Linked DNA regions of Homo sapiens. The protein of the gene in region 1 purifies or fractionates together with the protein of each later gene. This does not show direct contact. Each region holds a gene or a part of one and is shown in the gene's direction. Other genes may lie near its edges.

Region 1 (8,147 bases):
CACATTGTTTAATCATTTTCCTCTTTCCACCACGATCTGTGATGCTTAAAGTATCCTATATTCAGCAGGGACCATCTATATCAATGAGCACAATGCCTGCCATGCAGGAAATACTTCAGAAATGAATGGTGCTTTTGTCATCATTTTTGTTGTCACTTATTATATTTCAGAGTTGGAACCTAGTTTACTTTTGTCAAAGCAACGCACTATTCAGTGAGGAAAAAGAGATAAGCGATTAAGAATCATCTCTATGTCCTTTCTCAGACTGATACCACTCTTGGTAACATGGTGCTAACTCTACAGCTAACTGAGGTTCCAGAGAGAAATGTCCCACTATAAACTTTCCATATGCCTGTTGTGACTGCCACATTTACATCCATGTATTAATTTTAGAACTTGGTTGGCATTGTTCCCAAGTCATCAATATTGTTTATTTACAAGATGAGATAACTAGACATTAGTTCTGTGAATTTAGATGTTTTGCAAGTGTGAACGAATATCTATTCTCACATCAACTCAGAGGAACAGGTGCAAGTAAGATGCTAAAGAAGAAGGTATATAATACCTGAATAAAGTGTCTTGTGTGATGTTCTCCCCATTTATATCCTGCTCACCAAGGAAGAAGGAAAACAAGGAGTTACCCAATTAACTTGACTGTGCGATAAATGTGGCTTGCTGGAGAGCCATTTCAGCAGAATTTCTGGCATGCAGTAAACATGTGGAAAGAAGAGACAGTGAAAATCTTCCAAATGTTTGAGTCAGATAAAAATGAGTTCCAATTTAGATTTTGTTTTTTCTAAGTTTTGCCATATGTATGATTGAAAACAAATTATCTTTCTAAGTTTTCATTTTCTCATTTTTAACAAGAGAGATCATAAGCATATTGTAGATTATTATGGGTTTAAATGAGATACCATGTATGAAGTACTTATTATGTACTTGGAATAAAGTAAGCAGTAGATGAATAATATTATTTGGTTATGGTGGAGTTGGCAATGGTGAGTGTAGGTGAGGTATAAGAAGAGGAAGCAGAAGACAGGGAGTGGAAGCAAATTGCTATTTGGGGACCATAGACAAGAGGTAAGGCTGTAAGCAGAGATAGCCCATAAAAATGCAAGATACAAATCCATTTTTGGAATGCCTTTAAATATGTGCATTAGAAATCTGTTATTTTCCCCATGCTGAGATTCATTCATAGTCAGAAGTTGAGTAATCAACATTCAGAAATATGTCATTGAGACCAGGCTACTTATTCCTGAATATATAAATGGCAACGATTATAATTTGTGACTACATTCATTCTGTAGAAACTACAGGTGCTGCCATTTCAGCTGCTGTTGTGCAATCTTTACTGTGAGGAGTCCAGAGAGACTCTTATTATTCCAGTGCCTTCCTGATGCACAACAACCTATGATTTGCCCTCTTAATGAAATCTGAAGCATCTCATTGCCTCTGTATAGGGACAGGCTGTGGACAGATTTAGAGCGGAGCTTCAGGAAGTATCTTATATGTGTGTACTCGCCTGAGAATGATGTTACAGCTGCTGTTATGACTATTACTGTGGGTTGGATGTGGATGTCATAATTCAGAGTCCCTCTTGTTTCAGTTTTGGGTGCAGTGATGTTGAAATTCCTCTTCTGTACTTGAACTTCTATAGCAGTCTTCTAGCTAATGTCTTCAACTTGTTTCTCTTTTCTAAGGAAAGAGCACCTTCTCTTATGTCCCTTGTTCATCAGCCAGTTAAAAAAGCATCCTGACTGGTTCTTTTCTACCCTCTCCGATCAACCCCACCGAAGCTCCCAGGCACACTCTTACTTCTTAACCTAGTTGTAGATGCACAGAAGATACATAACAAGTATGTGGACAAAGAGATGAGAAAAAATGACATTAGGGGAACCTGAAGAGTTTATTTTGGTTTTAGAGATTATTTGAAGCAAACTGCTAAACATCCAGGTGAACTCAGAGCTAGCCAAGGTTCTGAAAGTTCAGTAAAAAATGTTAATATTGCATAGCTATGAAACATTTAATGAATTTAGCAATTTGGGGGACTGTGTTAAGAAACAGCCCTTTAAAACTGAAAAGGCCAACAGTTTTCAGAATTTGTGAGTCTACTCAACCCTTGCTACTCAAAGTATGACTTGTGTGTGAGCAGCAACGGCATCATTCAGAAGATTGTTGGCAATGCAGAACCTCAGGGCCCACTGCAGACCTGCTGTATCACATGTGCATTTAACAGGATCCCCAAGTATCATGTGTGCACATTAAAGTTTTGAGAATGACTGTGGTAAACACTTAGAATGTTTGACATTCCAAGAAAATTATAGAGCTTGGGCTGTAGAGTGACAAGATGTGGGGTCAAAGCCTAGCTCCACCATACACTCCTCATTAGATACCTAAATCATTGAATGAAGCTTACTAAGCTCTGGTTTCTACAAATGGGAATTAGGAATATGAGCCCTTCCCACTTCAATGGGCTGTTGTGAAATAATGCAGTTAGAGAACCTTCAATAAAATGTCAGTTAGCATAATTATATTTGTAATAATTATTCATATTATATTCATTATAGAATAAAGCGAAATATCATAAATAACTTTTTTTTTTGAGAGAGAGTCTTGCTCTGTCATCCAGGCTGGAGGGCAGCAGTGAGATCTCAGCTCACTGCAACCTCTGCTTCCCGAGTTCAAGCATTATACAACATATTTTTATAGGGCAAGGTGGAATATCCATTTACTAGCATGGGCTACAGTGGTGGTTGGAAAATAACAAAGAGAATTGCTTAGAGGAGGGATAGTGTTTTGTTCATCTTTGGATATCTGTGACTAGCAAATTTATTTGGGTAAGAGTAATTTCAGAGGGGAAAATAAACACGTCCCCCCACAGCCCCCACCCCAGAATCAATGCCTCTCAAACACTCTGCATTTTTGAAATATGGTAAAAAAAAATCACATCAGAGAAGTGATTGATGCTGCAGTCTCTTTTCAGTTCAGAGGAGAGAGACTTCTATCCATCAATAGTTTGGAAGTTCTCAATTATGTAATATAAATGATCAAGATTAATCGCCTTTTCTTTATTTTTCTTCTAAACAATGTCCAGATTCCTCCAAAGGACCTCAATCGTCTTCAGGTGTAAATGGTAACGTGCAGCCTCCCAGTACTGCTGGGCAGCCTCCTGCCTCTGCCATCCCTTCTCCAAGTGCCAGCAAGCCCTGGCGCAGCAAGTCCATGAATGTCAAACACAGTGCCACCTCCACCATGTTGACTGTAAAGCAGTCAAGTACAGCCACCTCCCCCACACCATCTTCAGACAGACTGAAGCCACCTGTCTCAGAAGGGGTCAAAACTGCTCCCTCAGGACAGAAATCCATGCTTGAGAAATTCAAGCTAGTCAATGCCCGGACTGCTTTACGCCCCCCGCAGCCTCCCAGTTCAGGACCTAGTGATGGTGGGAAGGATGATGATGCCTTTTCTGAATCTGGTGAAATGGAAGGTTTTAACAGTGGTCTGAATAGTGGTGGCTCAACAAATAGCAGTCCCAAAGTGTCACCTAAGTTGGCCCCTCCAAAAGCTGGAAGCAAAAATCTCAGCAATAAAAAGTCTTTGCTACAGCCAAAGGAAAAAGAAGAAAAGAACAGGGACAAAAATAAAGTTTGCACTGAAAAACCAGTCAAAGAAGAGAAGGATCAGGTGACAGAGATGGCTCCAAAAAAGACCTCCAAAATTGCAAGCTTGATCCCTAAGGGCAGCAAGACAACAGCAGCTAAGAAGGAAAGCTTAATTCCGTCTTCCAGTGGTATTCCAAAACCAGGCTCTAAAGTTCCAACAGTAAAGCAAACCATTTCACCTGGCAGCACAGCAAGCAAAGAGTCTGAGAAATTCAGGACTACCAAGGGGAGCCCTTCCCAGTCCTTATCTAAGCCTATAACCATGGAGAAAGCAAGTGCTTCTAGTTGTCCTGCCCCTTTGGAAGGAAGGGAAGCTGGCCAAGCTTCTCCTTCTGGTTCCTGTACCATGACAGTGGCACAAAGCAGTGGGCAGAGCACAGGAAATGGTGCTGTCCAACTCCCTCAACAGCAGCAACATAGCCACCCGAATACCGCGACAGTGGCACCATTCATTTACAGGTAAGGTGGCCTCTGTTTATCCACAGTTGTAAATATATTTACAGGCCTACATACTCAGAGTGTAATAGGGAAGGCTGATAAAGTGGTGCTTTATGTCGTCATTTTGGAGTAAAGTTTCATGCTAAAGATAGAGGCCTAGAATTCAGTGCGGAATCTTAGTCTGGAAAAAGACTTCCAGTAGGATCTAGTTTTATTCCCTCTCTCATTCCCTGTCAGCAATTGAGACCTTCAAAAATTGAATTACTTGTTATCAAAAGCCAGCTAGAAACCAGATGCCACAACTTTCTCTTGTGTTTATTCATATTATTGCTACTACTATACTGCTTCTATTACTAGCGGCAGACTTTTAAAATAATTCTCACTTTTACATCGTTTACGGTTATTTTTGTTGTCATCTTTGGGAGAAAGTATACCATAATGGTTAAAGAGGCAGCCTCTGAAATGATAAAGTTGCGGATTTCATTCCTAGTTCTGCCACTTTTCAGCTATAAGACATTGGGAAAGTTACTTAACATTCTTTAGTCTCATTTTCTTCAGCTGTCAAATAGGAACCATGCACTACTTTGTAGAGTTGAGACTATTAACAGAGGTCATGCATATAACATGTTTACTGTATATCCTGATGTGTTGCAAATGTTCTTCAAATGTTATTTATAAGATATTACTTTCTCAGTGTAAATTTTATATTAATTTCCCACAGCAAGGCATAGGTTTCTAGGTAAAAGGGGTTACATATATAATTTGTATTACTTATTTGGGTTGTATTACTGATTTGTTTTTTTTTTACCTTTTATTTATTTATTGTTTATTTTACTTTGCATTCTTATTTTGTAGGCATTGAAATACACAATATAAAATTTTTAAATGCATTATTATGCATTTTAAAATATGCATCCTACCATCCAAATGGTAAAGACAACACTTTGCTTGTTGTTCTGTGATTTGTTTTAATCGATTAGAGATATGTCAGTAACTGCTGTGTCCCCAGTTTATTCACTGCTTGGTTGGTAAGGAGATGGCCTGGGGAGCAATAATGTCTGCTTTGTCCCTCTTTCGGGCAGGTTGGCAATTTAACTACAGAAAGAAAATTTTATGAATAGGAAGCAGGACCCACTATAATTAAGAAAGGGTCAAAACTATATAGTTTAAAATTTTATTAAATTTTTTGAATGTAAAAGTTTTTAAAATAAAGCAGTTTATACTGATTTATTTTTTTGCTCAATGAGGAATGTAAGTGCTTTTTTTCTGAGGTTTTTTATACACTCAGCAAAACAAAATTATTATAATTATTACATTTAAGCTCTTGGGACATTACAATTGAATGTTGCTATTCTGACTTCAATAGTACTAACTCATTTAAAATACTTGTATTTGGATCAGATGGGAGTCTGCAGCTCCTTCTGACTCCAGGGTCCCTGTTTGACAAAGCAGAATTTAAGATGTCAAAATCATGATCCACATTTCAAAAACGTGAGAAAAAAAATCATGAAGTTTTAAATATGTCATACTCAGCACACTTTTGGATTACAAATATATTCTGTAAAAACATCAATCCTTTCAAAAAATCACAAGTGAATTTCATAGGAAAGTGTAAATCTAGAACTGCTAATTTAGTAGGCTTCTTTCTATAAGTAGCAACAAGCTTTTAAAAAAATTGTTTGCAATAAAATATCCAGTGGAAACAAATTTAGTGGTTTCCATTTGAAAATGTAACTTTTAAATATCAAAAACAGGAAGCAGCACAGCAGCACAGCTTAGAAGTTACAGTGTGGATCCGCTGTGTGAACCTGATGAGTTCTTTGAGAAACTCTTTGAGTTTCTGTTTGACCTCTTTAACAACAAGACTATAAAAGTGAGGCAGTGTAGCCAAGTAGCTAAGAAAAGAGGCATTAGAGAGGCTGAAGCAGGAGGAGAATCGCTTGAACCCAGGAGGTGGCAGAGGTTGCAGTGAGCTGAGATCGTGCATTTGCACTGCAGCCTGGGTAACAAGAGGGAAACTCAAAAAAAAAAAAAAAAAAAAAAAAAAGAGAAAAAAAGGGCGATAGAATATGTCTTACTCTACCATTGTTCAGAAACAGCATCTTGTGGTGGTGGTTGCCTAGGTGGGAATCTCAATGCCACCACTGATCAGTTGTGTTACTTTGGGTCATATATGTAAAGATTCTGACCCACAATTTCCTAATCTGTGAAATAGGTATGATAATTGTAGAAGCTACCTCATTAGCCTATTTTGAAGATTGAGTTGATATTTATCTGTAGAACAGTATCTGCCACATAGTAAACAGCCTTCCCTAAACTTCACTTTCTAATCCTATAAAGTATGATTGATAAAGGATGCCTACCTCGATTGATTGTATGAAAGATTAAAGAAAATAATCCCATGTAAAATTTTTAGCACACAGCCAGATTTTGAGCAAATTACATGAATATCAGTAATTATTTTTATTATTATCAACAATATAAGATAGCTAAAAATAAATGAAACTATGGTTGGCATGGTGGCTCATGCCTGTAATCCCAGCATTTTGGGAGGCCAAGGTGGGAGGATGACTTGAGGCCAGGACTTTGAGACCAGCCTGTACACCAGAGCAAGACCCTGTTTCTACAATAAATAAATAAATTAAAACTGTCTCATAAAATTTCACATTGAAGTCTATATATAAAGTAATATTCATTCAAAGTTTTTAAATCAATGCAGAACAATTTTACAAATAATATGTAAATCCTCAAAAGGCAGAGTGGTTAATATTCATTCTTTTCAGCTTTCAGTAAAAGCTTGTTTATAGAGTCATGACATTTGGATTATGTAACCTTTTATGTTCTTTCTGACTTTCACTGTTCTATCCCCATGTAAGAATCCCTCCTATAAAATCCCTGACAATTATTTTTGGAGTTGCTAATCATTTGATGAGATAAGACTAATAATTTACTTTTTGATGTTGGTATTATCATTTGTTGAGTGCTTACTTAGTGAAAATCTTTGTGTCACAAAATATATGTGAATTTTCTCATTTAAACTTCATCATGAACTCATGAGAAAAAATGTCATCCCCCATTTTCCAGAAATGAAGAAGCAGAGATATTAAGTCAGAATAGTAATAATCTCTTCAGATCATAAAGCTAGTAGAAATTTGCTTTGCTTATCAGTTCTATCTATGTGACAGAAATAAGAGGTATTGTTACTGAGAAAATTCTGGTTAGGAAAATGCCAATAGTACACTTGCAAAATTCTCAATCAGAACTCATTTATAATTGAAAATGGTAATTGCTGTTAATTAGTATAAATTATATAAATGTATACAGATACATATATATATGATATGTAAATATAATTAAATAACTTTTATATAATGGGAAGATTGATGGCTGATGGTGACTTTTTTTCTCAATTCTAGGTCAGTACTTATTCCTTCTGAGACTTCAATAAATGCTTCATAGTACTCTTTGTCACACACTGGGTGTTCAGAGTTCTATAAATATAATGTGGATTCTGGAAGTTAATAGATTTCCTATTAGCCTAACTTCCTATCTAATATAAATTATTCTGTACATAGTTTCAGTAATTCAATTATCTCTACAGAGTGATAAAGTAGTTTCAAATTTGCTGTTATTCTTATTCATTTATCAAATAGATATAACTAAGACAAAATGTCAAGAATTAAAGAAAATATTTTATTTTGGTTTAAGAAGTTCCTGATAACTAGAGCTACCTGAAATTGGAATAGGCTGCTTTTTATAGTGTTAAGATGGCCATCTGAAGTATTTAAAAAGTGGCAAAGTGACCAGTTATTACAGTTTAAGCAAAGGGAAATTGCTGCATACTTTTTCATTTATGTACTCATCCCTCATTCTACAAATACTGTGTAACAGAAGATACAAAGATTTTTTAAAAAAATCTCTGCCTTCTGGGAGCTCAGTCTACTAAGGGTAGTAAGAACAATATCATCAAAAATATTAAACCATTACTGTTATGGAAGTGTATGCAACATACACAATTAATGTAGAAAAAAAGAGGGTTTTTTACAA
Region 2 (6,016 bases), on another chromosome or scaffold:
CTCATGTAAGATGCCAATCTTCTGTCTCTTTTCTAGTCATGATTTATCACTGCATTCCTTAGTTGAGTAGCAGATGTTAAGTTTGGGGGCCATGTTGCATTAAAAAAAACCAGGATTTTATTTTACCTTGATTTTAGAGTTGGGGGGTCTTGTTGCCCAGGCTGGTCTGGAACTCCTGGGCTCAAAACACCAAAACCAATTTGTGCTTGGTGAGATGGAGGCAGGAACCAAGTAACTAAGACCATGCTTACACTAGGGTTTAGGGGCATTAAGTTTTTGGGGGGTGAGATGGGGGTGGGGCGAGGGGCTGAGATGAATGTCAATAAATAACATTCAAGTAATATGTAACCATTCTTCTATTATTAGGACAAATACAAGTCTGTCTAGACTGGCTTGTTTAGATAGTTATGGATGATATTAATGAGGCCAAGGCTTGTTAACTTTGTTTCACCTAGAGAGACTTTATAACAAAACCACTTACTTAGATGACAAAAAGAGAATATGTCTAGTAGTTGGTTACAGAGAAGTTAAGGTGAAGACATAATAACAGTGGATAACTATGATTAAATGGTTACATCAGGATTTAGCAAAGAAAAAATAATCATTAAATGGATATTATGTGGCGATTACTTCATTTAATCCTCACAAATATCCTAGATGGTAAACTACATTTTTAGTGTCAAAAACTGAGGCTTAAAGAAGTTAAATAACTTGAGTTTGTCTCCAGACCTTAAACACTAGGCTTTAATATTCAGGTAGAGCGAGGTTAGAGCATTTTATTTTGCTAGCCTCTATATCCCTAGCACCGAGAACACTGCTTGGCATGTAGTGTGTGCTCAGCTATTTGAATGGATAAGTGAAGGAATCATAAAATTATTACCTCTCCTATGGAGAAACAGTTTAGAAAGAATCTACTGATGAGGCAGTAGCATTCTCTTCATCTGGAATAACAACAGATCTTAATTAGATGTGGCTATAAAGACTGCTTTAATCTTATTTTTATCCTGCTCTTTCTACTTGAGTATGAAATGAGTTGCTTCCTAGCTGATTTTGTTCACATAATTATGCGTGGTGGGAATGCCCTGCTTCCTTAACTTGTCCTTTTTTCTTTGAAGCCTACCTTTTTCTTGAGTCTAATGCCCTGCTTCCTTAACTTGTCCTTTTTTCTTTGAAGCCTACCTGTTTCTTGCGTCTAATGCCCCTTCTTAGTCCTTACAGGTGTCCTTAGCAGGCAATTAGTCCTTGCCATCTGTATGTACCATTTCCTGCTATTGTCAGCAATTTGGTGCCTTGACTAATGCCTAGCCTTTCATTTTTGCACACCATTGAAACTTTAATGTTAGTGCAATCTGCTGCCAGTCAAGCCATGTAAAATGAAAAAACTTCTAGCACGGTATAAAAACTGTTTACCCCTTTTAATTGAATGCTGGACCTTGGGATCTTCGACAAACATTTAGGCATAAGAAGACATAAGTGGAAGCACAAGGAATTAATTTCTTTGTGGAGTAGTGAATTAAGTGGTATCCTGCATTGTAGTGCAAGGCATAAAATAGACATGTAATTAAAAATTTGTCTAAAAACCATATCATTCTGTGCTCCTGCTTTTAAACTTGGAAACATTTTCATTGGTGTTTCTGATGGCCTTTATAATCATATAGTCAGGTGAGATGAGAGTATGGTAAGAGTGGGAGATTTTGATATTAGTTTATTAGATACAATATTAATTCATATATCAGAAAGATTTTCTGTTGGGGAAACATTGGCTTGAAAAATCTGAAATATCGAGCATTTGGTCAAGGTGTTTCATAGGTACTAATAAGGTACACATTTGCAAAATACCCATTAAAAGAAGAGCAGATTTCACAATTATAGGTAGTGAATCATAGTTGACTCTGGCCTTTGAAGCCACACAGTGTAAGTCACATCTCATTGTGGGCCAAAGGAGCATGGGTGAAATAACACAATTTAGAATAGAAACTAGCTGCATCTGTCAGCTTGCATGAGCTTGGTCAAGTCACTTTAGTTCTTACTGAATTTAAATGTCTTTTTAGGCCAGGCGCAGTGGCTCATGTCTGTAATCCCAATAATTTGGTAGGCCAAGACGGGTGGATCATCTGGTCAGGAGGTCAGGAGTTCAAGACCAACCTGGCCAACATGGTGAAACCCAGTCTCTACTAAAAATGCAAAAATTAGCCAGGTGTGGGTGGCACTCACCTGTAATCCCAGCTACTTGGGAGTCTGAGGCACGAGAATCACCTGCATCTGGGAGGCAGAGGATGCAGTGAGCTGAGATCGCGCCACTACACTCCAGCTTGGGCAACAGATTGAGACTCTGTCTCAAAAAATAAAATAAGTGTTTTTTTGTAGAAATGTCCACAGAAGAAGCTTTTTTGGGGGATGTCATTAAGTGTAAAACCTCAAACCTTAAGGCACAAATGAAAGATGCTTTGTTTTTTCTGGAAATGGGGTCTCACTCTGTCACCCAGGCTGAAGTGCAGTGGCACAATCATAGCTGACTGCAGCCTCAACTTCCTTGGCTCAAGCAATTCTCCCACCTCAGCCTCCTGAATATCTAGGACCACAGGTGGGCACCACCACTCCTGGTTAATTTTTGTATTTTTTGTAGAGACGAAGTTTCCCCACGTTGCCTTGGCTGGTTTAGAACTCCTGGACTCGAGTGATCCTCCTGTCTTGGCCTCCCAAAGTGCCGGGATTACAGGTGTGAGTCACCATGCCTGACTGACATATATGGTTTTGATAGGAAACTTTTGAACAATATTGAAGAAAGCTCACAACTTGTTGGTTTTCTTATATATTTTTTAAAGTCATCTTTTTCCAAACCAAAATAATGTGATTTTTGGCTAATACAGCATAATATTTGAAAGTCATAAACTTAAATTGTTTTTAAGGAGGTAAACTTTTTTTTTTTTTTTTCAAATCACTCAAAAATTGGGATATGGAAAGGGGCCCTGTCTGTCTTTTGGTTTAGGGTTATCTTAAGCTTTAGATAGTGATCTGGTAAGAACTGTGATGTTGCTTAAGTTTTGGGAAACCACTTAAGATCTTAATCCTTCTTAATTCTGCACTTTTTTTTTTTTTTGCTGAATAGATATTAGATAATTGTGTTGAAGATCCTCTTTCCCCTGCTCCTAACTTAATAAGTGATACCTTGATAAGATTTGAATTAACCATGGAGGTATTAAAACTACCTAGTTGTCTTGCCAGACACTTTACATACACTGTCTTTTAAAATATGCCTAACTATGCAATGAGAGGTGTCACTTTTTTCATTTTGAAAAACATTGAGAGAACTTAGATTTTCTAAGTGAGGGTTCTTAACCTGGGGTGCAAGTTAGTTGGTTTCCTTTGTAATCATAAGTATTTTATTTTATACATGTAAAATCATTCTAAGAGAGATTCAGTGTAGCTGGGAATTCAAGGTCTCTGAATCTGGATCTAGAATTTGTGTGTGCTCATTCCTCTTATACCACATTGCTGATAAATAAGAAAACTGTCTACCTAAAGCTTGGTTGGGTTTGAGGTTGATGTGAATATGGAGCAGAAAGACTAGCCAATTTAGGGGAGATGTCAGAGCATATGGATTCTGTGGCTAGGAAACAGAAAGGAAGATGGGCAGTCTCTGCCCACCTTTATGAAAGACCATTTGGTTGATTACAGTGATAGAAAACATATAACCAGGGAGAAACGTATGTGGGCCTTGCCACGTGGGTGTTCACATTTATTCTGATTTGGAAAGTATTCAGTAATAACTGCAAAGTTAAAAGCCTAAAATACCAAGAAGATATGTAGTTTCCTAGGTAAAGTCGCCTGGGAGGTTAGGGATGCATGTTTTGTTGGCTGAGAAGGGTAGGATAGATCTTAGATTTCATTTATTTTTATCCTGTAGACTGGAGAAGGTTTGGGATTGGGGCTAATGTGGGAATTTAGTGCCTTCTAAGCAGGTGAGAGAAACAAGATAGGAACCCAATGCAGAGGGAAATTTATTCATTAATCTATGCTAACAAGTATTTGAGTACCAATTAGATTCCATATACTAGTGATATACAGTTGTAAGCAAAAGCAGAGACAGACTTTGACCTATTAGAATTTAATTGTCAATCAGTTAACAAATAAATAATGCAAAGTGTGGATAAGAGCTAAGACGGAAAAGTACAAAACTTTGAGTACAGTTAGTATGGGGACCTCTCTTGGGAGAGAGAGGCACTTTGGTAAGGGAAGGTTTGTTTGAGGAAAGGATATATGAATTGTGCTCTGATAGATGAAGTTAACTAGTTAATAAACTGAAGGTTGAAAAGGGATGTATGAGTGATGTCTGTAAAATGATGAACAGATTTGATAGATGATAGATGTATTAACTAATTCCTGGAAACCAAAATGAGAGACCTCTTTAGTAAGAGGAGGAATTTTAAATCAAATAAAAACAGTGATTTTTACACTGAATATCGAGGGAGTTTATTGTCATTGGTAGAATACAAAAAGCATTGAAGAGGACCTAGAGTAAGTTAAGGGGTAGCATATTTATAATAGGTTAAGGAAGCTGGAGTGTTTCAATGCTTTTATATGACTTTGAGTTTTATGGTTTTGTAAACAATTCCTACTCATAGATCACTCCCAGAAGCCCACTTTTAGACTGAATTTTCTTAATGTCTTTAAATATGTATACAGGTTTTAAGAGTTGTAGCCTTAGGGTTAAAAGTATTATGCAGGTCAGAAGCAGAAAACATTACAATTACTTGGAAAACAATATTTCAAGGTAGTTTAACTTTCATATAAGAAGCTAGAGATAGTTCTGAAAAACTTTGTGGTCATTTTGTTAATCACTCGTTTCTATGTTATCCAACAAGTAGTTTAAGACTCCAAATTCTGTGGTAAATTTCCTAGCTTATTCAACTGAAAGGGATATTGAAGATGTGCTGTATATTAGGCCTTGTGCTAAATTTACTCATTCCAGAGGAATTCAAAAGGAGGTGGTGGATTGTGGTGATGGGGGGTCATCTTAAGCCCACTTATATTGTCAATAGACAATTACAGTGCAGTTTTATTAAGTACATCTTTTGAGTTTCAAATTTTTGTCTTGCAATTCCAAAAGCTCAGATGTCTAATTAATGTATGTAAACGCCTGATAAGTAGGGGTTGTTTGGTTTCTGGGCTTCCCAGGGGTTTACTTTAGGGACACAGACTGGCCCAAAAAGCCTTGACTTCTGCATCCCGAAGTGAGTTGGGAGCCAAAGCCTGGTTCATGTGTGATTATGTATTGTGGGCTGTGACAGGAAGTGAGGGAGCTGGAAGGGGGAAAGCACATCCAGATAAAGGATTCAAATAGAATAATGAAGGTATAGTTCAGCTGGGGCATTTGTAATGCTTATTTTAATAAATTGAATCTGCTTCCCCCACCCCCCAATTTTGTCTGTCTAGGTGTGTGTGGAATTTGATGGGGAATCTTGGAGGAAAAGAAGATGGATAGAAGTCTACAGCCTTCTAAGGAGAGCATTTTTAGTAGAACATAATTTGGTTTTAGCTGAACGAAAGTCACCTGAAATTTCTGAACGAATTGTACAGTGGCCTGCAATAGTGAGTAAAACTTGGGCTTATTGAACTCCTGAGAAGAGGGCATTTTATCCATTGTGGGTACAAAAGGAATATGTAAATGTAATGCCAGAAAGTCAGAAAAGCTCCCAGGATCTCCTGCCAGCCCTTTTAAGAACTCTGCACTTCTGAGCGAGTCCCTTGACTTTGTTGGACCTCGTGTTCACTTGACAAATAGGGATGGAGGTAGTAGTGGGAATGTCTAGGTCAGAAGGCAGGAACTAGCAGTCATATGCAAACATATAGATCTGTTTGGTTTGGCCCTTGCAGTACTTTCAAAACATTTGAATTAATTGCCTACTTTAAAAAATGTGGAGAATACATCTGAAAATCTAGATTTCCATTGTCTCTTAAAAAATCTACAAGATAATGGCAACACTGGAGCCTTATGGCAGCAATGGGCTAGAGC
Region 3 (8,147 bases), about 33 Mb from region 1:
AAAAATTAGCTAGGTGTGGTGGCACACACCTGTGGTCCCAGCTACTCAAGAGGCTGAGGCAGGAGGATCACCTGAGCCCAGGAGGCAGAGGTTGTAGTGAGCCGAGATCTCATCACTACACTCCAGCCTGGGTGAGAGTGAGATGCTGTCTCAAAAAAAAATAATAGAAAAAGAAATAACTAGCCAAAGTCTCCCACTAAACCGACAGGACAACTGAGGCTAGGGAGGGAAGACATGAGTTCAGTTACACAGAGACAGAGGGAAACCCCAGGTCTCTCACCTCTTTATACAGCACTTTCTCCTGGGGGTCGGAAGCAGGCACCAGGGCAATGTCAAAGACAGCATCGCAGCAGAGGAAAACGTTTGCTCTCCATGGGCCAGCCAGTAGTCTTATATTCAGGGTCTAGGAGTTCAGCAAGAGGAAAAATACAAAGGTTATTGCCCCATACCCCTGGCAAAAAAAATGAATGCTAAGCAGTGGGCACATGAGCCGCTGCCAGGGAGGAAATGAATGTGACTAACTGCTCAATCACGAGTTCTACTTCTGGGATTGGAAGGAAATGTCCAGAATGGGGACAGGGGTTTATATATAAGCTGTTCCATCATTGTTCATAAGAGTGACAAACTGGAAACAAAACAACCTAAGTGTCCAGCAGTGGGGGATCTGGTAAGTAAAGCAGATAATATCCCTTTAGCAGCATGTGCAGCCCTTAAAGGTAGAACTTTTAATGATAAGAAAAAATGGGGCCGGGCACAGTGGCTCACGCCTGTATAATCCCAACACTTTGGAAGGCCAAGACAGATGGATCACTTGAGGTCAGGAGTTGGAGACCAGCCTGGACCACATGGCAAAACCCCATCTCTACTAAAAATACAAAAATTAGCCAGGCATGGTAGTAGGAACCTGTAATCCCAGCTACTCAGGAGGCTGAGGCAGGAGAACCACTTGAACCTGGAAAGCAGAGGTTGCAGTGAGCCGAGATCGCGCCATTGCACTCCAGCCTGGGCAACAGAGCAAGACTCGGTCTCAAAAAAAAAGAAAAAATTTAGCTGGGCATAGTGGCAAATGCATGTAGTCCCAACTACTTGAGAGGCTGAGGCAGGAAGATCGCTTAAACCCAGGAGTTTGAGACTAGCCTGGGCAACATACCAAGACCCTGTCTCCAAAAAAGAAAAAAAGAAAAAAAACACTCATGTTGATACTAAATGGGGACAAACCAGACTACACTTCCACATATCGAGTATGATCATGCGATGCATGTAGTTTAGAAAACAGACTGGAAGGGAATACATGAGAATATTTCACGTGGTTGCTCCTAAGAGACAGTAAGGGTGACTTTCATTTTGATCTTGACTTTTTGTGCTTTTTTTTGCATGCTCCTCTGTGCTCCCATAGTAGGCAAGTATGAGTTTTTTTTAATCGAGGTAAAATTCTCATAACATAAAATTAAGCTTTTTTTTTTTTTTTTGAGACAGAGTTGTGCTCTTGTTGCCCAGACTGGAGTGCAGTGGCGCAATCTCGGCTCACCACAACCTCCGCCTCCTGGGTTCAAGTGATTCCGCCTCAGCCTCCCGAGTAGCTGGGATTACAGGCATGTGCCACCACGCCCGGTTAATTTTTTTTTTTTTAATTTTTAGTAGAGACGGGGTTTCTCCGTGTTGGTCAGGCTGGTCTCAATCTCCTGACCTCAGATGATCCGCCTGCCTCAACCTCCCAAAATGCTGGGATTACACGCTTGAGCCACCGCGCCCGGCACTTCTTTTTTTTTTTTTTTTTTGACAGAGTCTTTAGCTCTGTCGCCCAGGCTGGAGTGCAGTGGTGTGATCTCGGCTCACTGCAACCTCCACTTCCCAGGTTCAAGCAATTCTCCTGCCTCAGCCTCCTGAGTAGCTGGGATTACAGGTGCGTGCCACCACGCCCAGCTAATTTTTGTATTTTTAGTAGAGACGGGGTTTCACCACGTTGGCCAGACTGGTTTCAAATTCCTGAGGTCAAGTGATCGGCCTGCCTCAGTCTCCCAAAGTGCTGGGATTACAGACGTGAACCACCACGCCCGGCCAAAATTAACCATTTTAAAGTGTACAATTCAGTAGTAGTTAGTATAGTCAGTGTTATGCAACCATCATCTCTCTCCAGTTCACACATGTTCATCACCCCAGAAGGAAACCCTATACCCATTAAGCAGTGCTTCTCCTTTCCACTCTCCCCCCAGCCCCTGGAAACCACTGATCTGCATCCTGTTTCTGTGGATTGACCTGTTCTGCACATTTTGTGTAAATGGAATCATATCATATGTGCTACCTTGCGTCTGGCCTCTTTCACTCAGCCCCATGTTTGTAAGGCTTATTCCTGTTGTAGCCCCTGTTAGTGCTTCATTCCTTTTTATGACAAAATAATGTTCCATTGCTATATTACTTTTTAATTGGAAAAGCAATGAAAATTATTTTTAATGGGTCTAAGAGGACCCACTAGGATGAAAGCTACACAGAGATAATGAAGAAGGGGTTACATTGATCTGGCTTTCTGCAGAGCTAGAGAGACTCTGGTGTCGGGAACGCTTCTCTGAGGGCAGAGGGAAGCACCTTTTCATTTACTGGTTAATTGTCATTCCTCAGGGCACAGATCCATCTATTATCCTTGGTTCATGACACACTCTCAGGGCTGCCGCCTGCATGGCCTTCTCTCAGGTGTCTGTGTGTATGTGTGTACACACGTGCATATATATATATGTGTATATATGTGTGTGTATATTCATGCATTCATTCATTCGTTCACTCATGTAAATGACAGAATGAACCTCTGGGAACATATTGCCCAACCCAAGATTTAGAAAATTCCCAATAACTGAGATCTGGCATTTTCCTCCCCATCCCACCCCTGCCTTCCTCTCCCAGAGATGTCTTTCATCCTAAAATTTTGTCCTGTTGTTCCTTTGTGTTTGCCATTTGTAGAAAAGGTTTTTCACTAAATCATATAGTGTTTATGTTATTTGTTATGGAACTTGATAGAAAACATGTGATACCGACCGGGCGCGGTGGCTCACACCTGTAATCCTAGCACTTTAGGAGGCCAAGGTGGGCAGATCATTTGAGCTCAGGAGTTTGAGACCAGCCTGGCTAACATGGTGAAACCCGATCTCTACTAAAAATACAAAAAAAAATTAGCCAGGCCTGGTGGCGAGTGCCTGTAATCCCAGCTACTCGGGAGGCTGAGGCAAGAGAATTGCCTGAACCTGGGAGGCAGAAGTTGAGGTGAGCTGAGATCACGCCACTGCACTCCAGCCTGGGCAACAGAACAAGACTCAGTCAAAAAGAAAAAAGAAAAAAGAAAACGTGATACTGAGTGCCATCTTATTGGACTTGTTTTTGTTGTTGTTGTTGTTGTTATTGTTGTTGTTTTTTGAGATAGGCTCTCACTCTGTTGCCCAGGCTGGAGTGCAGTGGTGCAAACATGGCTCACTGCCACCTCGACCTCCCAGGATCAAGTGATCCTCCTGCCTCAGCTGGGACCGTAGGCATACACCACCATGCCTGGCTAATTTTTTTTTCTTTTTTCTTTTTTTTTTTTTTTTCACTTTTTTGTAGAGTCAGGGTCTCATTTTGTAGCCTAGGCTGGTCTTGAGCTCCTGGGCTCCAGTAATCCTCCTGCCTCACCCTCCCAAAGTGCTGGGATTATAAGCATAAGCCACTGCTCCCAGCCTTCACCTGCTTTTTTCACTCAATATTATGTTATTAGGATTCACACAAAGGGCACGGTAGCTCATACCTGTAGTCCTAGCTACTCGGGAGGCTGAGGCAGGAGAACCACTTGAGCCCAGGAGTTTGAGACCACAGAGAGCTATGATCGCACCTGAGATCGAGCCACTGCACTCCAGCCTGGGAAGCATAGCAAGACCACATCTCTTTTTTTAAAAAAAAAAAAAGATTCATATCTGATTTTGCATAAGGACTTCCTTTTTCACTGCTGCATAGTGTTCCATTGTGTGATCATCCCACTATTTTTTTTTCTAGAGATGGATGTCTCATTCTGTCACCCAGGTCGGAGTGCAATCTTGGTTCACTGCAGCCTCGAATTCCCAGGCTCAAGCAATGCTCCCAACTCAGACCCTGAGGTACAGGTGTGAGCCACCACGCCTGGCTAATTTTTGTATTTTTTGCAGAGACTGAGTTTTGCCATGTTGCCCAGGCTGGTCTCGAACTCCTAAACTCAGACAATTTGACTGCCTCAGCCTCCCAAAGTGCTGGGATGACAGGTGTGAGTCACTGTGCCTGGCCCATCCCACTGTTTTTGATCCATTCTCTGCATGGGCATTTGGATTCATTGCTATTAGAACAAGTGAAGGGCTGGGCACAGTGGCTCGAGCCTGTAATCTCTACACTTTGGGAGGCTGAGGAGGGCAGATCACTTGAGCCCAGGAGTTTGAGACCACCCTGGGCAATATGGCAAAACCCCGTCTCTACAAAAAATACAAAAATTAGCTGAGCATGGTGGCACATGCTTGTAGTCCCAGCACTTTGGGAGGCCCAGGCAGGAGAATCACTTGAAGCCAGGAGTTTGAAACCAGCCTGGGCAACATGGCAAGACCCCATCTCTATGAAAGAAAGGAAGGAAGAAAGGGAAGGGAAATGAGGAAGGAAAGAAATATTTTTAAAGAATTTTTTTTTTAAAACAGAACAAGTGAACAAGCCACTTTTCTGTGCCTTCGTGTTTTCTTTGTCTTTGAACATTTACATGGTTGGATCATTGCCTATGTAAAAGTCAGGTCAGGCCGGGCACTGTGGTTCATGCCTGTCATCTCAGCACTTTGGGAGGCTGAGGTGTAGATCACTTGAGCTCAGGAGTTCAAGACCAGCCTGGCCAACATGGCAAAACCCTGTCTCTACTAAAGCTAAATAGCTGGGCATGGTGGTGCACACCTGTAATCCCAGCTACTCAGGAGGCTGAGGTAGGAGAATTGCTGGAAGTGGGGAGGCAGAGGTTGCAGTGAGCTGAGATCGTGCCATTGCACTCCATCCTGAGCACCAGAGTGAGACTCCATCTCAAAACAAAACAAAACAAAAGTCAGGTCTGTGTTTGCATTGCATTATCCGCATGAGCATGTTCTCTGCATATGCCAAAACCTCACTGTCAACCGAATTTTGGGTGGCTGCCTAATATTCTGCCACAGGGAGGGATCATAATTTAGTTAGCCAATCCCCAGTTGCTGGACACAGAGGTTGCCTGGACACCGTGCTGGCATCAACAGGGATGCTGTGAACATCGTCCCCTGCATGCCGAGCCCTGACCCTGGGCCTCGGGCCGTCCTGTCCCCCTCCCCGCAGGCGAGCCCAAGACCTCGGTGGCCCCGCTGAGCATCGCCAACGGCACGACCCCCGCCAGCACCTCGGAGGACGCCATCAAGAGCATCCTGGAGCAGGCACGCCGTGAGATGCAGGCGCAACAGCAGGCGCTGCTGGAGATGGAGGTGGCGCCCAGGGGCCGCTCGGTGCCCCCCTCGCCCCCGGAGCGGCCATCACTGGCCACCGCGAGCCAGAACGGGGCCCCGGCCTTGGTGAAGCAGGAGGAGGGCAGCGGGGGCCCCGCGCAGGCGCCGCTCCCGGTCCTGTCCCCCGCCGCCTTCGTGCAGAGCATCATCCGCAAGGTCAAGTCCGAGATCGGCGACGCCGGCTACTTCGACCACCACTGGGCCTCCGACCGCGGCCTGCTCAGCCGCCCCTACGCCTCCGTGTCGCCCTCGCTGTCCTCCTCCTCCTCCTCTGGCTACTCTGGCCAGCCCAACGGCCGCGCCTGGCCCCGCGGGGACGAGGCCCCTGTGCCCCCCGAGGACGAGGCGGCGGCAGGGGCGGAGGACGAACCCCCCAGGACGGGCGAGCTCAAGGCTGAGGGCGCGACGGCCGAGGCGGGCGCGCGGCTGCCCTACTACCCGGCCTACGTGCCGCGCACCCTGAAGCCCACCGTGCCGCCGCTGACCCCCGAGCAGTACGAGCTGTACATGTACCGTGAGGTAGACACGCTGGAGCTCACCCGCCAGGTCAAGGAGAAGCTGGCCAAGAACGGCATCTGCCAGAGGATCTTCGGGGAGAAGGTGAGTGCAGGGCGGGCCCCCGGTGTCTGGGCTCTGGGAGAAGATGTCGGAGAAGTAGGATGCCCACCCAAGCAGGCTGGCGGGACCCCAGGGGCCCAGGCCCTTCATTCCTGAGTCCTGCTGTCCCTGGGTCCCGCAGGAAGGAGGGCCACTGTTCTGCTCCGTGGTTGTTAAAACCAGGAAATGCTTCCATCCTGGCCAGCAAACAGCCACTTAACTCCCCTCCTCCAGGCCCCTCCAGATCGCCTGAGGTCCAGCCACTAAAGGGTTAAGTGGCAGGACTTGGTGGCTCACGCCTGTAATCCCAGCACTTTGGGAGACGGAGGTGGGAAGATCTCTTGAGCCCAGAAGTTTGAGACCAGCCTGGCCAACGTGGTGAAACCCCGTCTCTACTAAAAAATACAAAAATTAAGCTGGGCACGGTGGCTCACACCTGTAATCCCAGCACTTTGGGAGGCTGAGGCGGGCAGATCATGAGATCAAGAGATCAAGACCATCCTGGCCAACATGGTGAAACCCCATCTCTACTAAAAATATAAAAATTAGCTGGGCTTGGTGTCCTGTGCCGGTATAGTCATGGCTACTTAGGAGACTGAGGCAGGAGCATCACTTGAACCTGGGAGGCAGGGGTTGCAGCGAGCCAAGATCTCGCTACTGTGCTCCAGCCTGGGTGACAGAACGATACTCCATCTCAAAAGAAAAAAAAAAAAGTGTTTGGGATCAGCCTGGGCAATGTAGCAAGACCCCCATCTCTACAAAATAAAAAAAATTAGCCAAGTGTGGTGGTGCACAGCTACTCAGGAGGCTGAGGTGGGAGAATTGCTTGAACCCAGGTGGTCGAGGCTACAGTGAGCCATGATCACACCAGTGCACTCCAGCCTGGGCAACAGAGCAAGACCTCATCCCCCCAAAAATAAATAAAAATTTAAAAAGAAAGGGTTAAATAAAGCTCACCCTAGCCAGGGGACCTCAGTGTTTCCTGATTGGTTGGTGCCCCTGCAATGCCAGTTTTAAGTGTCACCTCTACCTTTAGCAAGGGAATAGGCAAAGGGCCAGGCAAGCTCGGAGGAGGGAGAAATGACTTAAGTGGGAGGTCAGGGAAGGCTTCCTGGAGGAGGGGGGCACTGAAGGATTTTTACATGTAGGGACATTAGGGAGGGTACTGGAGGGGAAGGGCACAGCAACAGCACATGGCAGGCACCTATGAGGAACAAATGAAGGCCGCCTGGACTCCAACAGAGGGGAGGGGAGGGGATGGGAGGCTGGGCATGGTGGCTCACACCTATAATCCCAACACTGTGGGAGGCTGAGTTGGGTGGATCACTTGAGGTCAGGAGTTCGAAACCAGCCTGGCCAATGTGGCAAAACCCCATCTCTACTAAAAATACAAAAATTAGCCAGACGTGCACCAGCCTGGTACAAGTCCCAACTACTAAGGAGGCTGAGGCAGGAGAATCATTTGAACCTGGGAGGCGGAGTTTGCAGTGAGCTGAGATGGTGCCACTGCACTCCATCCTGGGCGACAGACAAAGCGAGACTCTGCCTCAAAAAAAAAAAAAAAAAAAAAAAGGTTGGGGAGGAGAGTGAGGGCCAGGCCCATGTCCCAGGGGCCTGCTGACCTACCCCCCTGGCCCGCCCCTCGCAGGTGCTGGGCCTGTCACAGGGCAGCGTGAGCGACATGCTGTCCCGGCCGAAGCCATGGAGCAAGCTGACGCAGAAGGGGCGGGAGCCCTTCATCCGCATGCAGCTGTGGCTCTCTGACCAGCTCGGCCAGGCAGTGGGCCAGCAGCCTGGTGCCTCCCAGGGTGAGTGCGGGCAGGAGCATCTCAGGGGGTGCTGGCAAACTTCCCACCTGCGCAGTGGCATGTCCGCCTGGCTTTACTGCCCGAGTCTACCTATCTCTCCCTCCCTGCTGCCCTGGCTTTCATCCCAGTCACTGTCATGGCTGCACTGGAACATGGCGGGGGGTCCTGGGGTTTCTCTGCTCCCCTTTCTTCCTTCCTCCAACCAGAGGGAGGCTTCTAGAAGCTGCACGCCTGATGCACTGGGTCCTGGCTTTAA
Region 4 (8,461 bases), on another chromosome or scaffold:
CACTACAGATCCTCCTCCAGCAGGGGATCCGGGAACCCAGGACTCCTTGGTAGTGCACATCGAGGAAGCCGAGTAGGGACATGGGTGCCTCGGACCCAGGCCCCAGATCGCCTTCGGAGCCCCGGAGCCCCTCACTTCCCGCGCTTCGTTAAGGAAGGGCAGGCATCTAGGGGCGCCAGGTAGGTGCAGAAAGGCAGGGAGGGAAAGGAAACTGCACCCAACCCAGCAGTGTCCGGCTGCCCTGGTTGTGGAAACAGGATAGGAGTAAAGAGGAAGGGGCTGGGGCAAGGCGGGGGCTCACCGCGAGGCTGAAAGCCGGCCTCTCAACGTCAGAGCCTGGCAGCTAGGAGAGCAATCTGAGAAGCGAATTCGTTTTTCACCAACCGAAAGCAATTGAAGCTGTCTCCCCGCACCGCTTCCCAGGAAGTAATTTTTCAGGAGATGGGCGCTCCCTGCCTAGCTGGTGGGGAGGCGAGAGGCCTGGTTCCTGCGGCCCTCCGCGCCGGCAGAGAACAGAAGGTCTTTCCCGGAGCCGGGAGCCGGAGGCACGGGGTAGCCCCCGGGTCCTTTGCGGCCCCGCGCGAGCGGCAAGTTCCGGCGCGGCCTGTGTCGTCGCCGCTACTCACTGTCATCGCTGCCGTGCCTCAGCCACTTCTGGTCACACCTGCACCGCAAATAGTTGCCTTTTCCTTTCAACTGGCAGCCGGGAGTAGGGGGAAGCAGCTCGAGCCGGCGTCCCCCGGCCCACCCCGAAAATCCTCAGCGCCCATCTGCGGGGTCTGGCCAGCCCTGCCTGACACTGACCCCAGGCGCAGCCAGGAGGGGCTTTGTGCGGGAGAGGGAGGGGGACCCCAGCTTGCCTGGGGTCCACGGGACTCTCTTCTTCCTAGTTCACTTTCTTGCTAAGGCGAAGGTCCTGAGGCAGGACGAGGGCTGAACTGCGCTGCAATCGTCCCCACCTCCAGCGAAACCCAGTTGACAGGGGCGCCAGAAGCTGCCGCGGCGCCTCTGCAAATTTATCCAGCTCGCGCAGCCCGGGCCAAAGGCCTTGAAGTCTCCGGAAATGCGGGGTTCTTAGGAGGCGGGAGGACAGTCCCTCGAACAAAGGTGGGGGGCTCCTCGTCCTCACCCAGTTTTCTTCCAGGGCTGCCTCCCCTCCAGACCTCTCTTCTGGCCTCCTAGGCCCTCGGAGCTCCTGCTTTCCCACCCTGGGCCTTCCTCAGGAAATGGGCGACATCAGGGTCCCGAAAGAGGATTTGTGAGGTGGAGTAACTTCCCTATCCCAACCCAAGGGGTGATACCTCTGCTCTGGAGGACTTGGGCTTAGGCTGACCCAAGAAGCCAGAAAGTAAAACCAGAAGGCAAATCAGCAGCCTTGGCGAGGGTTCGGGGACCCAAGGAGGGCGACACTCTCGGGCTGGAGTTGGCCCCAGGCCTTTGCTGGCGCCCTCTAACCCGCTGCATGCTCGACTCTCGGGGAAGGAGACGACCTCCCCTCTCTTCCCCTGGAAGCCGTCTGCGGGGCCGGCTGCTATCCCCGCGTTCCTCTAGGGGAAACTTCGATGGAGCCGAAATTCAAAAATTGCAAACCCACCTGCCCCTGGGAAGAGCGAAGTGACAAAAGGGCTCTCACTGGCAGTACGAATCTGAATGCTAATGACAACAGAGGTTTTGAAAAACATTGACCCCCAAATGCTTCAGCAGCGCTGTCCAGCTGGCACCTAAACTGCATCACTCTGCGCCTTGGGGAAGGGCCCAGGCTTGGCGACCTTGACCTTTTCCCACCATCCTCAACCTCCACCCCTGCCGCGTCGCGCTGAGCACAGGTCCCCCGGGAATAGTGCACCCCAGGAAGTCTCTCCCTGAGCAGTCTCTCGCAGGGACTTCACGAAGCCCTCTCGCAGGGACTATACGAAGCCCGCAGCCTAAGGCAGGAACCCAGAGACATGTCGGTTTAATGTAAAAACTTTGGAGAGCCTTTCAAAATGTTTATTGAAGGCCCGTCTCGCTTCTCTCCCAGGCGTGGGATGCCAGGTAGATTCGGGGATGCCCCCAGGGAGTAGAACTCTCCCTGGACTAGGGTTTGAGCCTCTGCTTCAGCTTCTGGCGCCTCTTCTCGACCTGGGGGGAAACCCAGTAGGGTTCCATCGCGAAATTAAACCCGCCCCCAACACACACACACTCGCCTTTCAATTCCTTAAGGCTTAGCCAACATTCACAGGAGAAATGTCCCCTGCCTTTGCTCTAAGACAAGCCTCTCCCCGGAACTTTGGTGGAACTTCCCGCGCCAGCGTCCACAGCCTGGGTGCAGTCAGTATTTTCCACAGAAAAGAAAAGATTGGGACCTGGCTGAGCGCAGCGGCAAACAGTGAATGTGGGTCTCCAACCTCCTGGGCCAGGGCGTCCTGTTGCCTCTTGGAGACACGAGAGGCTTGTTTCTGCACCACTACCACCTCCTCCGTAGGGCTGTCGGTTCTGCAGCTGGGCTAGGGCCCCTGTGTCTCCCCTCAACACCTCTGAGGGCATTTGGGATCCAGGGCGTAGAGTCTGGAGCTGCCAGAGTTCTGCCCTGGCCAACGTGACCCCCAGAACAATATTCCTTCACTTCGCGGGCAGAAGTCCGGCTGAAGTTAAAACAATTATGGAGAATTTGCTGGCTCTCAGGTTGGGACTAATTACGATATAACTATAGAGAGAGGAAACACATGGTCAGATATAACAAAATGTGTCACAGTCTCCATTAGCACAAAGATTTTCAAACTGCAGGTTGCACCCATTCGCAGGTCATAAAATCAATTTACTAGGTTGAGATTAGTATTTTTTAAACGAAATAGCAGATAATGGAGAGAAAAGTAGATAGCATCATACGTGGTAAACGTTTGTTTTATGTCCTTAAGATTTGTCAGTATAACTGACCTGCAGTGTCCGTGTGTGAACTACACAACGATCCGAAATGTATTTCTCACATTTGTGGGTCACCATCAGGAGGTTTTTTTTAGCCCTGGATTAAAGGCGTTTTATTGCCTTTGTAGGATCCAGCCGGTTTAACTATTATATACATTTAAATCAACATCAATCAGTTGATTAACACCGATTATATGAGCGCATTCAAGGACCACTCATTGGCAGAGCCAAGCTTAGGCTCACGGCGAGAGCTGACTCGAGTTTGGTCTCCAATAAAAAGGCTATCTTTATTAGGAAGGGCTTGAGTTACTAGGGAAGAGCTTCGCGCGCCTACACTAGGCGCTGAAATGGGATGCTGGGGCTTGGTGGCTCCGGCGGGAGCAGCTGGTAGGGCTAGGGCTCCCTGGCCCCCCTTGAAGGGGTTGGGCTGCGTGGGTGGGGGCTGTGCGGGGCTCCGGGGGCCACACTCACGCCCTGTGTCGCCCGCAGGCGGCGCCTACGCTGCGGAGCCGGAGGAGAACAAGCGGACGCGCACGGCCTACACGCGCGCACAGCTGCTAGAGCTGGAGAAGGAGTTCCTATTCAACAAGTACATCTCACGGCCGCGCCGGGTGGAGCTGGCTGTCATGTTGAACTTGACCGAGAGACACATCAAGATCTGGTTCCAAAACCGCCGCATGAAGTGGAAAAAGGAGGAGGACAAGAAGCGCGGCGGCGGGACAGCTGTCGGGGGTGGCGGGGTCGCGGAGCCTGAGCAGGACTGCGCCGTGACCTCCGGCGAGGAGCTTCTGGCGCTGCCGCCGCCGCCGCCCCCCGGAGGTGCTGTGCCGCCCGCTGCCCCCGTTGCCGCCCGAGAGGGCCGCCTGCCGCCTGGCCTTAGCGCGTCGCCACAGCCCTCCAGCGTCGCGCCTCGGCGGCCGCAGGAACCACGATGAGAGGCAGGAGCTGCTCCTGGCTGAGGGGCTTCAACCACTCGCCGAGGAGGAGCAGAGGGCCTAGGAGGACCCCGGGCGTGGACCACCCGCCCTGGCAGTTGAATGGGGCGGCAATTGCGGGGCCCACCTTAGACCGAAGGGGAAAACCCGCTCTCTCAGGCGCATGTGCCAGTTGGGGCCCCGCGGGTAGATGCCGGCAGGCCTTCCGGAAGAAAAAGAGCCATTGGTTTTTGTAGTATTGGGGCCCTCTTTTAGTGATACTGGATTGGCGTTGTTTGTGGCTGTTGCGCACATCCCTGCCCTCCTACAGCACTCCACCTTGGGACCTGTTTAGAGAAGCCGGCTCTTCAAAGACAATGGAAACTGTACCATACACATTGGAAGGCTCCCTAACACACACAGCGGGGAAGCTGGGCCGAGTACCTTAATCTGCCATAAAGCCATTCTTACTCGGGCGACCCCTTTAAGTTTAGAAATAATTGAAAGGAAATGTTTGAGTTTTCAAAGATCCCGTGAAATTGATGCCAGTGGAATACAGTGAGTCCTCCTCTTCCTCCTCCTCCTCTTCCCCCTCCCCTTCCTCCTCCTCCTCTTCTTTTCCCTCCTCTTCCTCTTCCTCCTGCTCTCCTTTCCTCCCCCTCCTCTTTTCCCTCCTCTTCCTCTTCCTCCTGCTCTCCTTTCCTCCCCCTCCTCTTTCTCCTCCTCCTCCTCTTCTTCCCCCTCCTCTCCCTCCTCCTCTTCTTCCCCCTCCTCTCCCTCCTCCTCTTCTTCTCCCTCCTCTTCCTCTTCCTCCTCTTCCACGTGCTCTCCTTTCCTCCCCCTCCTCTTGCTCCCCTTCTTCCCCGTCCTCTTCCTCCTCCTCCTCTTCTTCTCCCTCCTCTTCCTCCTCCTCTTTCTTCCTGACCTCTTTCTTTCTCCTCCTCCTCCTTCTACCTCCCCTTCTCATCCCTCCTCTTCCTCTTCTCTAGCTGCACACTTCACTACTGCACATCTTATAACTTGCACCCCTTTCTTCTGAGGAAGAGAACATCTTGCAAGGCAGGGCGAGCAGCGGCAGGGCTGGCTTAGGAGCAGTGCAAGAGTCCCTGTGCTCCAGTTCCACACTGCTGGCAGGGAAGGCAAGGGGGGACGGGCCTGGATCTGGGGGTGAGGGAGAAAGATGGACCCCTGGGTGACCACTAAACCAAAGATATTCGGAACTTTCTATTTAGGATGTGGACGTAATTCCTGTTCCGAGGTAGAGGCTGTGCTGAAGACAAGCACAGTGGCCTGGTGCGCCTTGGAAACCAACAACTATTCACGAGCCAGTATGACCTTCACATCTTTAGAAATTATGAAAACGTATGTGATTGGAGGGTTTGGAAAACCAGTTATCTTATTTAACATTTTAAAAATTACCTAACAGTTATTTACAAACAGGTCTGTGCATCCCAGGTCTGTCTTCTTTTCAAGGTCTGGGCCTTGTGCTCGGGTTATGTTTGTGGGAAATGCTTAATAAATACTGATAATATGGGAAGAGATGAAAACTGATTCTCCTCACTTTGTTTCAAACCTTTCTGGCAGTGGGATGATTCGAATTCACTTTTAAAATTAAATTAGCGTGTTTTGTTTTGTTTTGTTTTTGTTTTTGTTTGAGAGGGTCTCATTCTGTCGTTCCTGGGTTCCTCTTTTTTTCAGGGATTCTCCTACCTCAGCCTCCTGAGTAGCTGGGATTACAGGCTTACACCACCACGCCCGGCTAATTTTTGTATTTTTAGTAGAGACAGGGTTTCGCCATGATGGCCAGGCTGATCAGGGTCTATTTTTTTCGGTACTAATCAGGAAAAATCAGGTAATTAAGAAATAGTGCACTTGAGTTTTGAGTTGGAGCACCCTGTGAGGGGATGAATATCCAGTTTTGTTTTATTTTTAATTTAAGAATATCTTCTCATGATGACTTTCTCGGGTAATATAGTCTAGAGCGTGGGAGACAGCTCGGAGTACTGCTGGCCAATACTGCTTCCTGGCAGAGCCAAGCGCCGCCCACCTGACGCCTCAGTGCTGCGGGTGGTGAGACCCGTCGCTGGCTCCCACCATGGTCAGGTCTCCTCTTTCCTCCCAAAGCTGAGGACGCAGGCGAGGCCGTTTTCTGTGACCCTTCCAAAAGAAGCGTTGTTTTGGATGAGTCTCTGTCCCCGGAGGCCGAGGGCCAAAAGTGTCTTATGTTAGAGGCAAAGATGCCCGGATTTAGAGGGCTTCCAACCCCTAGGACCACTTTGCTCTTCCCTGCAGGAAGCTCTCAGATGGGCGCCTTAGCCCGGTGGTGCACCCGACGGCCCTCCCCGGCGCTCCCTGTGTTCAGTACCAGTACCTCACTCCCAGGCGTCGCTGCTTTTCTTTTACTTTTTGCAAAGATAGACGCTGTTTGTTGTTGCCGTTTTGTTTTGTTTTGTTTTACTGGAGAGAGATATCGAGTCCCTCGGGATAAAATTAAGTCCCTTGGATCAGAAAGGGGAACTTGCGCATCCTTGAGAGTGCTCTTTCCTTGCGGTTCTCCACACCCGCCTGGGCTCTGGGGTGGGGCAAATCTGCGCTCGCATCCTTGGTCCCTCAAATATTGGCCCAGCCCGAAGTCCTGATAAAATGATTCGAACTCTCAGTGACTCAGTTTCTTCATCCAGAAAGTGGAGGCAAATACTACTTCATGGAGTTGCTGTGAGGTTTAAACCAAGAAATACCTGTAAAATGCTAATTCGGCATCTAGGAATCCCTCCACAAACAGTAGCTATTGTTTTAGGCTGTCATCGTCGTCGTCGTCAGAGGCAATCGGGAGCTGCTGTTGTGGAGTTTCTAAAGTCCCCCACCAGTCCCCCGGCAGCCCCTCCCCTCTGGCAAACCCCCACACTGTCGCTGTTGATATGAGTTTTATTCCTCTACCCACTCATCTTTCCCGAACACTGCCTAGTTTCAGGATGCCCTTCCTCATAAATAAACTCCCTAGGTTTTCCACAGCAAACTTCACCAGGCAAAGAACTGCAGCTCCGCCGACCAGTTAGTTGGTGGAGGCGCAGAAACTTGTCCTCGGACCCCACGCAGAAGCCGCCGCCCTCTCCAAGGCTCCGGCCCCGACTTCGCTCTGCGAATTGGGCCAGCCGCTGCTTTTCCGCGAGACCCGAGGGTTCGCCAAGGAGAGGAGAAGAGGCACAGGCTGCCTGAGACTGGTCTTCGGGCAGCCGAGGGCGCGGGATGACTCGGGCAGGCGTGTGGCCTCCGACTGACCAGGGTTGGGCCCGGGATCAGAGCTTTGCTTGGAAGTTCTCTGGGTGGCAGAGACTCGGGCAACCGGAGCCTGAGCCTCCCGCGGGGAAGAGCTCGGACTCCGGAGGTCGCGCCGCCTTGGGCTTGAATTCAGTCCTTCCTTACTACTCGTGGCTTTGCTTACATCATTTAACTCTCCATTTCCTTGTCTATACAGTGGGCTCATAAGGAGGCGGTAAGGAGATGATGATGTCTTTGAAGAGTTTAGGACAGGACCTGGTGTCTCCCGTACGCTTGGTGGGGGTGGCGGAGGTGATGCGTTGTTAACAGGAGAAACCGACCTTCCAGGGAGGCCCAGGGAGGCAGCGGAGAGCGAAGTCCTGCTCGGCGGAGAGACCTCGAGGAGAGTATGGGGAAAGGAATGAATGCTGCGGAGCGCCCCTCTGGGCTCCACCCAAGCCTCGGAGGCGGGACGGTGGGCTCCGTCCCGACCCCTTAGGCAGCTGGACCGATACCTCCTGGATCAGACCCCACAGGAAGACTCGCGTGGGGCCCGATATGTGTACTTCAAACTCTGAGCGGCCACCCTCAGCCAACTGGCCAGTGGATGCGAATCGTGGGCCCTGAGGGGCGAGGGCGCTCGGAACTGCATGCCTGTGCACGGTGCCGGGCTCTCCAGAGTGAGGGGGCCGTAAGGAGATCTCCAAGGAAGCCGAAAAAAGCAGCCAGTTGGGCTTCGGGAAAGACTTTTCTGCAAAGGAAGTGATCTGGTCCCAGAACTCCAGGGTTGACCCCAGTACCTGACTTCTCCGGGAGCTGTCAGCTCTCCTCTGTTCTTCGGGCTTGGCGCGCTCCTTTCATAATGGACAGACACCAGTGGCCTTCAAAAGGTCTGGGGTGGGGGAACGGAGGAAGTGGCCTTGGGTGCAGAGGAAGAGCAGAGCTCCTGCCAAAGCTGAACGCAGTTAGCCCTACCCAAGTGCGCGCTGGCTCGGCATATGCGCTCCAGAGCCGGCAGGACAGCCCGGCCCTGCTCACCCCGAGGAGAAATCCAACAGCGCAGCCTCCTGCACCTCCTTGCCCCAGAGACCGTCCGAGCTGGAGCCACAAGCCCTCCATTCCTCTTGGAATCTTCAACCCCAAGGTAAGGTAAGTTCACCGAGCACCGCCCAGCGATGCGCAGGATCCGGGGGGGATCACGCGCGGCGACCCTACCGAGCGCTCCGTGCGCGCCCCCATCTCTCGGATCGTGTTCCTGGCTCTGTCGAAGCTGCTGAGTCCCGCGATTCGGGAAATCCGGCACTTGTTTCTCACCCTACACCATCACGTGGAAATCATTGAAAATGGGAACCCTGGTGGAGTATCTGGGAGAGCACGCTTGTGCC

What was found.
Region 2: the proteins of NAV3 (region 1) and KDM3A purify together in Homo sapiens (affinity purification with mass spectrometry; one large-scale study listed by BioGRID and IntAct). This does not show direct contact.
Region 3: the proteins of NAV3 (region 1) and CUX2 purify together in Homo sapiens (affinity purification with mass spectrometry; one large-scale study listed by BioGRID and IntAct). This does not show direct contact.
Region 4: the proteins of NAV3 (region 1) and PDX1 purify together in Homo sapiens (affinity purification with mass spectrometry; one large-scale study listed by BioGRID and IntAct). This does not show direct contact.

What each region holds. Positions count from the first base shown.
Region 1 is NC_000012.12:78,003,325-78,011,471, forward strand, and holds part of NAV3 (neuron navigator 3), read left to right. Parts: intron 1-3,094; coding exon 3,095-4,121; intron 4,122-8,147. UniProt on the Homo sapiens protein: Plays a role in cell migration. May be involved in neuron regeneration. May regulate IL2 production by T-cells.
Region 2 is NC_000002.12:86,444,371-86,450,386, forward strand, and holds part of KDM3A (lysine-specific demethylase 3A), read left to right. Parts: intron 1-5,436; coding exon 5,437-5,592; intron 5,593-6,016. UniProt on the Homo sapiens protein: Histone demethylase that specifically demethylates 'Lys-9' of histone H3, thereby playing a central role in histone code.
Region 3 is NC_000012.12:111,314,690-111,322,836, forward strand, and holds part of CUX2 (homeobox protein cut-like 2), read left to right. Parts: intron 1-280; exon of another isoform or gene 281-403; intron 404-5,322; coding exon 5,323-6,086; intron 6,087-7,731; coding exon 7,732-7,891; intron 7,892-8,147. UniProt on the Homo sapiens protein: Transcription factor involved in the control of neuronal proliferation and differentiation in the brain. Regulates dendrite development and branching, dendritic spine formation, and synaptogenesis in cortical layers II-III.
Region 4 is NC_000013.11:27,920,863-27,929,323, forward strand, and holds the end of PDX1 (pancreas/duodenum homeobox protein 1), read left to right. Parts: intron 1-3,393; coding exon 3,394-3,839; 3' UTR 3,840-5,451; downstream 5,452-8,461. UniProt on the Homo sapiens protein: Activates insulin, somatostatin, glucokinase, islet amyloid polypeptide and glucose transporter type 2 gene transcription. Particularly involved in glucose-dependent regulation of insulin gene transcription.